2 linked regions of the Homo sapiens genome follow. The protein of the gene in region 1 interacts with the protein of each later gene in a pairwise test. Each region holds a gene or a part of one and is shown on either strand. Other genes may lie near its edges.

The links. Proteins that work in one complex are often made in the same cells at the same time.
Region 2: the proteins of CYTH1 (region 1) and PCNT interact in a two-hybrid assay, tested with the Homo sapiens proteins (one large-scale study listed by BioGRID and IntAct).

The regions. Positions count from the first base shown.
Region 1 is NC_000017.11:78,772,220-78,775,996, reverse strand, and holds part of CYTH1 (cytohesin-1), read left to right. Parts: intron 1-3,777. UniProt on the Homo sapiens protein: Promotes guanine-nucleotide exchange on ARF1, ARF5 and ARF6. Promotes the activation of ARF factors through replacement of GDP with GTP.
Region 2 is NC_000021.9:46,425,059-46,428,835, forward strand, and holds part of PCNT (pericentrin), read left to right. Parts: intron 1-772; coding exon 773-913; intron 914-2,563; coding exon 2,564-2,737; intron 2,738-3,336; coding exon 3,337-3,532; intron 3,533-3,777. UniProt on the Homo sapiens protein: Integral component of the filamentous matrix of the centrosome involved in the initial establishment of organized microtubule arrays in both mitosis and meiosis. Plays a role, together with DISC1, in the microtubule network formation.

The DNA.
Region 1 (3,777 bases):
TTTTAGTAGAGACGAGGTTTCACCATGTTGGCCAGGCTGATCTCAAACTCCTGACCTCAGGTGATTTGCCCACTTCAGCCTCCCAAAGTGCTGGGATTACAGGTATGAGCCACCGTGCCTGGCCTTTAAGCATAATTTCTATATAAACATTTAAAATGAAAGTTGCTGGAGTCTATCATGTTCATTATAGCAAATGCATGTCTTATTTTTGTTCCTTTCAAGAAGTTAGCTTCAATTAGGGAAGTTGTCAACAGAGAATTTTAAAATAATTTTTAGGTGAGTTTTCAAATGAAAAGGAAGAGACGTCTGCAAATGTCCTTTACTTATTCAGCTTCTGAAATACCTTACTTTTTATTTGCCTTTGATGTAATTTTTACATTGAGTTCCCAGATTGATTATCTAAAGCAGGAAAGGTAGAACTAATTCATTATCTAAAACAAGAAAGAACAAATTTCAAGTTAAAATAGCAGTGTTTTCAGCAAGAATTAAAAAAACGAGGTTTCACTTTCTCTGTAGAGGAAGAGTGGTGGGGTAAGACATTCAAGAAAGTTGTTCATTCGCATATTTCGAGAAGCATTGAGGTCCAATTGCATAAAAACGTATCTGCTGTCTCTAGCTTTGGCCTTTGAGGGAAGGATATAAGGGAATACTCAGGACAGGGGTAAAAAGAAAAAAGACCCTTAGCACCCGAGGCTTTCAAGATCACTCTTAATTAGTAACTTCCTTCCATCTCTCCTCTTCCCCTAACCCCCAGCGGCCCCCCCAATCTTCATGGGCCACAGGAGACTGTCAGGGTGTTCAGCCTGGTTTCTGTGCCGGGTTAGGTGTGGTGTCATAACACACAGAGGGACCTCAGGAGGACTAACCCTGTGGTCTGTGGATGGTGTGATGCCTCGGGAGCTGGGGTGACTGCAGGGGTGGGTGCCTAGTGGCACAGAGGGAAAGCAGGCAGCAAGTCCAGGGCCGTTATGCCAGCCACAGGTGGTGGGCTGTCTGAGGGAGCAGTGCCTTGCGGCAGTTCTAACCCGATTTCCCATGCCGAATGCCCTGGTGGGTACTTCGGGGGTTTGATAAGAAAAGAGAGTAGTTTCTTCTGTGTTTTCATGGAAAGGAGTTTTCTCACAGGCATAATCTTGAGTGTCTACTCAAGATTTGGGAACATTTCACATGTATGTATTACGGTTTGTGACCAAAGACTCTGGATAAAAGGAGGATTTATATCAGAATTATAGGAAGAGCTGTCATGCTGTACCATGGAGACCTGTGTGTGGGTGGTGAGAAGATTCAACAAGAAAAATAAGGTCTGGGCACTGGCATGTCTGGGTGCTGCTGCGGGCTGGGGAGAGGAGCCTGTTGCATTTAAGAAAGATTTGCCTTTTCATCACCATGTCTCCAGAATAGGCATGGTGCCTGGGGCCCTACAGAGGCAGCTCAGCAACTGTGGAGGGAATAATGGATTGAACCAAGTTCCATCTTGTAAAAAGTTAATATGTGGTGAGTTTGAGTTTTTTTCCTCAACTCTCCATTTCAAACAGAAACCAGAACACTTCTGTGCATGTTTGACCCCATGCAGAACCCGTTTTCTTTGTTTTTCTATGATATGGATGACTTCCATTATTCTCAAACTTAGTTACTAACTTACTGATTTGCCTTTATTGAAAAGAACACAATTATTTACAGTGAACACCTTCTTAGAAAATCTGGAACATAAGGTTGCCATAATTATACACACTTTGTGGTCTTTAAGATATATTCTCAGGGTGACATGAACATGTCAGAGTATAAACATTTTTAGAATTCTTGATGTCTGGTGCCAACTTTTTCCAAAAGGGCTGCACCAATTTACTCTTTTCTTAGCAATGTATCAGTACACGTACCTGTAATAGTGCAAATGTGCCCTCAGTGAGGATCAACATTTTAAAAGTTTTTTTTTAAAACAAACAAGCAAACAAACTGAATTTGGTGGTTACAAAATGGTGACTTATTAAATCTACTGATCACTAGCTGGATTGAAAAAAATTTTTATTTTGCATATTTGTGTATTATGAACTGGCTACATCATAAGAAATGATGGTTTATTTACTTAACTTAGGTTAACTCTTTTCTATCAAATAAAGTGATTTACAGGTTTTTGTCACTGTTTTAAGCATGGGGAAAATGTGTATCAGTTTTGACTGGGGTTTAGGTTAGATTTTGGCTAATTGTAACAGTCGTTTACCTTTCTTTTAATTTTTCTTTTAAAGATGAAAGATCTCTCAACCCATATATTGTCTTCTGGCCAACTACAAAATGTTTCCTTACGAGAAGAAATTGTGAATTAAATAGATTTTTAGAAAATTTAATTTAATTTAATTTTTTTTTTTTTTTTGAGATGGAGTCTTGCTCTGTCGCCCAGGCTGCAGTGCAGTGGCACAATCTCGGCTCACTGCAACATCTGCCTCCCGGGTTCAAGCAATTCTTGTGCCTCAGCCTCCTGAGTAGCGGAATTACAGGCGCACGCCACCATGCCCTGCTGATTTTTGTATTTTTAGTAGAGATGGGGTTTCACCATGTTGGTAAGGCTGGCCTCAAACTCCTGACCTCAGGTGATCCGTCCGCCTCGGCCTCCCAAAGTGCTGGGATTACAGGCGTGAGCCACCGCTCCTGGCCAGTAGATTTTTTTTTTGAAACTATAATTTTTCTTTTAATTAAATAGAGCAGGGTCTCACTGTGTTACCCAGGCTGGTCTTGAACTCCTGGCCTCAAGTGATTCTCCTGCCTTGGCTTCCTAAAGTACTAGGATTACAGGCATGAGCCACCACACCTTCCTGTGAATTAAACAGATTGTATTGGTCTGGGTTATAATGATAAACTGTTCAGTTTCAGGCTGGGCATGGTGGCTCATGCTTGTAATCCCAGCACTTTGGGAGGTCGAGGTGGGCAGATCGCTTAAGCTCAGGAGTACAAGAGCAGCTTGGGCAACATGGTGAAAACCCATCTCTACTAAAATACAAAAAAAAATTAGCCGGGTGTGGTGGTGCCTGCCTGTGATCCCAGCTACTCAAGAGGCTGAGTCACTAGAATCGCTTGAACCTGGGAGGCGGAGGTTGCAGTGAGCTGAGATCGTGCCACTGTACTCCTGCCTGGGCAACAGAGTGAGACCATGTCTCAAAAACAAAACAGGCCAGGTGTGGTGGCTCACGCCTGTAATCCCAACACTTTGGGAGGCCAAGGTGGCCGGATCATGAGGTCAAGAGATCGAGACCATCCTGGCCAACATTGTGAAACTCTGTCTCTAATAAAAATAAAAAAATCAGCTGGGTGTGGTGGTGCACGCCTGTAGTCTCAGCTATTCAGGAGGCTAAGGCAGGAGAATTGCTTGAACCTGGGAGGCGGAGGTTGCAGTGAGCCGAGATCGCGCCACTGCACTCCAGCCTGGCGACAGAGTGAGACTCCATCTCAAAAAACAAAAACAAAAACGAAACAAAACAAAACACTTCAGTTTCTGGAATCTTATGGCTCATACCTGCTCCTTTCTAAATGTTCCATGTGTTAATCAAAAGAGATTATGTCAAACAGATTTTTTCTTCAGTATTTCTTGCATTCACGATCAGTTAGGACACTTATTCTATAGTAAGAATTAGAAGATTGCCTTCTTATTTCAAGTATGGGGGGCACACATCATAGGTCATTTGGAACAGGAGAGATGAAAGGGATGAAACATCTCTGTGTATTGTGCTGGACCGGTGGAAGACTTCAACTTGAGAGCCGTGTCGAGTCTGGTCGAGTCTGCTTTCC
Region 2 (3,777 bases), on another chromosome or scaffold:
TCAGGTTTTTATGCAGACGTGTCCTGTGCTTGGGTGTGTGCTCATGTGGTGGTGACCGCGCTGAGCCTCTGGGCTCTGGGCTCTAGGCTGGTCGTGACACCAGCTTCTCCATAGGGCCGTCTGCTTACCCCTCAGCCTCTCTGGCGAGACAGTCAAGTGTGTGTCCGGACACCAGCTGCTGCGTAATCGGTGGGATAAAGCAGCCGCCTCGTGTTCACAGACCTGTGGGCAGGGCCTGCTGGGGATGGTTTTCTCTGCTCCCCGTGCCCAGCACAGGCAGCTTCACCCCACGCTGGTGGTCGGCACTGGCCTCAGCCGGACCACGCACAGAGGCCTCCTGGGTGGCCATCGTGTGGCCTTCTCGTAGCGTCCCAGGTGGGCAGGGAGTGTGTGATATGTTTGTGATCTCGCTGTGGACATTGGCCTAAAGCCCTGCCCTGAGCTTTGTCCAGGCTTAGGCGGGGGACGGTGTCCCCCTCAGGGAGCAGGTGGAGTGGAGGAAGTGGCGGGGCCATCTTTGGAGTGGCTTATAGAGAAATTCACTCCAAGCCTGGCTTCCGTGTTGTCTCTCTGAAGGTCGGGAGAGGTGGGCTTGAAAACCTTGTAGCTTGAGAAGTGGGTGCCGCCTGTACGAAGCCGAGGCGGTGCCCTCCCTCTCCACAGCTGCCCGCCCTTCACAGAGTCCTGGCGGCAGCTCGGGGCCGCAGGTGGTGTAGAGCGTGGCTGTGTGGGGTGGCAGGCAACTCCCTTCTGACGCGCTTTCCCGCCACAGGCTTTACTGCAGATGGTGCGTGACGAGAGCCACCAGATCCTGGCGCTGTCAGAAGGCCTTGCACCCCCAAGCGGCGAGCCACACCCACCCCGGAAGGAAGACGAGATACAGGACATCTCGCTCCATGGGGGAAAGACGCAGGTTTATTTTGCCCTTCACACACTTCTTTTCCAAAGGATTTAAGGAGCTTGTGGTAATGGCCGCGTCCTTAGGGCCACGTGGACACTAGGATTTCTTTCTTTTTTTTTTTTTTTTTTTTTTTTTTTGAGACTCGGCTCACTGCAACCTCCACCACCCCGGGTCAAGCAGTTCTCTGCCTCAGCCTCCCGAGTAGCTGGGATTACAGGTGCATGCCACCATGCCCAGCTAATTTTTGTATTTTTAGTAGAGACGGGCTTTCACCATCTTAGCTAGGCTGGTCTTGAACTCCAGACCTTGTGATCCACCCGCCTCAGCCTCCCAAAGTGCTGGGATTACAGGCATGAGCCACCGTGCCTGGCCTAGGATTTTTTTTAGCACGGCCAAAAAGACTGAGGTCCAAGAACCCTGGGGAGGCCTTCCCATCTCCCACAGCCAGCGCAGGCTCTCGGGGCAGGTTCCCTGCGGGACGTGGAGGTGTGTGGGGGGCAGAAGGGCTCAGGGCTTTCAGGCCTGTGCCCTGTGTGAGCCTGCGGGGAGGCTGAGAGTGGTCCCTCCTGGCCATGTGGCCCTGCGGACTCGGCCCATTCCAGCACTTGTCCCCCAGGGCCTCTCCTCCTGCCACTCGGGTGACTTGCCCTCCGGCCTCATTCCTCCCCTTGGGTCTCTCCTACCTCCCCCTCCACACCCCAAGCCCCAGCAACTGGACCTCAGGGCCTCACCTCTGTGCTGTCGACCCCGCACCCCACTTTTCCCCAAGTCCTCCCCATCTCCCTGCCTGTCTGCTTCCATCACCAGGGCTTGTGGAGGTTGTGGAGTGGGTGCCAACTCCCATCACGCTCCCTCCCATCTCCGTGCCCACCCTGTCCTGCCCCTGTGCCTGCCTCTGACTGGGATCAAAGCTTTGTGAGGGAGGGAAGGGCTTTCTCCCTGTGCCTGGAACGCACAGGGTGTGCTGGTGCCATGGAGAGCCGGTGGGAGGGTCAGCCCCACCCGCCTCCGCTCGCCCCTCCAGCAGGCCCTGGTTGTGTGCGAGCGGCAGCCTGGCTGGCATTCAGGAGGCTCATTGGTGCTGCACGCTGCCCCTGGGGACCAGCGGGTAGCCCCTTGCAGCCTTAGGTCCCCTCCAGGCCCTGGGCCTTGAAGGCACAGCAGCAGGAAAAGAGGGAAGGAGCTTTGCTGACATTTTCCTGACCTTACTTTATCGTCTTTTTCAGTCTCTTCTGTGCTCATGATGGCAGCCTTTGCTTCTCGTGCCTTGAATGGCCCTGGGCAGTGTGTGTCTTCTCTTCTGTCAGGGTCATTTCTGTTTGAACGGCTGTCAGTCTGCTCAGCTGCCGTAACAGAACACCCCAGACCAGGGGGCTTAAACAGCAGACATTGATTTCACCTGTTGTGGCATCAGGGTGCCCACAGGGTTGGATTCTGGTGTAGGCGCCCTTCCTGGTTTGCGGACAGCGTCTCCGTGCTGTGTCCTCATATGATGGAGACAGCGAGTGAGCTCTGGTGTCTCTTCCTCTTCTTAAGAGGCCTCATTTACCCTGAATCACCTCCCGCAGGCCCCATCTCCAAACGCAGTCACACTGCGAACTTTAGGGCACAAGGATGCAGGTGCATTTGTGAGGACGCCACGTTTCTTCCTTCTTCCTTTAGGAAGTGCCCACCGCGTGCCCCGATTGGAGAGGGGACCTTCTGCAGGTTGTGCAAGAGGCCTTTGAAAAAGAGCAGGAGATGCAGGGGGTTGAGCTGCAGCCCCGACTCAGTGGCTCAGATCTGGGGGGTCACAGCTCCCTGCTCGAAAGGCTGGAGAAGATCATCCGTGAGCAGGTGAGTGTCAGCTCTGCCACCAGGCCTCAGTTTGCCCCAGGGGTCCAGCCCTGGCAGAGAGGGTGACACAGACTGTTTTGTGTGTGAATTTCGGTTTGTGTGTTTCTCTCGACCGCTGGAATGTGGCTGTCACTTACCCAGGTGTTGACGCTCAGTCCATGCAGGATGCTGCACTTTTCCACCTGCAGCTGTAACAGGACAGGTGTGCTCGAGATGCACCCTCAGGCCTCACTCTTTTCTGAGATAGGTGGCTAAAGAAACGTTCTCCATTCCAAGTAGCCCCTCCTAGGTTGAGAGGTGCTCTGTGTGCAGGGCTGGGTGGCGTTGGTGCCGTGGGGACACTGGAAATCCTGTTCCTGCCAGCATACACGAGGAAACCTAGTGTTGAGAGTAACTGGCTTGCAGGCCTCACGCAGGGTAGTGCAGCCCAGCCCTGACGCCTGCAGGCCCCAGAGCTGAGGCCCAGCAGATACTGTGCACCCATCCCAGACTCAGCAGGCTTGTCCCGGCGGAGCTGGTTTTGAGGGCGGGCAGCAGGGAAGGCCGGGGCATGGGGTGGCTGCCCAATGCTCAGGCTGCTTGTCCCATTGTGCCCCCAGGGAGACCTGCAGGAAAAGTCCCTGGAGCATCTTCGCTTGCCGGACCGGAGCAGCCTGCTGTCCGAGATCCAGGCGCTGCGTGCCCAGCTGCGCATGACGCACCTGCAGAACCAGGAGAAGCTGCAGCACTTGCGCACGGCGCTGACAAGCGCAGAGGCGCGCGGGAGCCAGCAGGAGCACCAGCTGCGCAGGCAGGGTGGGTGTCACTGTCTACACTGCCTGGGGCCCGGCCTCTGCACCTGCCCGCCCGACACTCACCTGTGTGGCCTTGGGAGCAGAGGGTGGTGACAGGGCATCATCTAGTCAAGCCCCTGAGTGTTGCCATGGTTGTCAGCTGATAGGACTGAGCAGAAAGGACCCTGGAGACAGGCAGCGCTGGGTGGGGCTGGCACGGAGGCCTCACTCTTGGGCCTGATGTGGGCAAGAGGGGCCTGGGTTGGG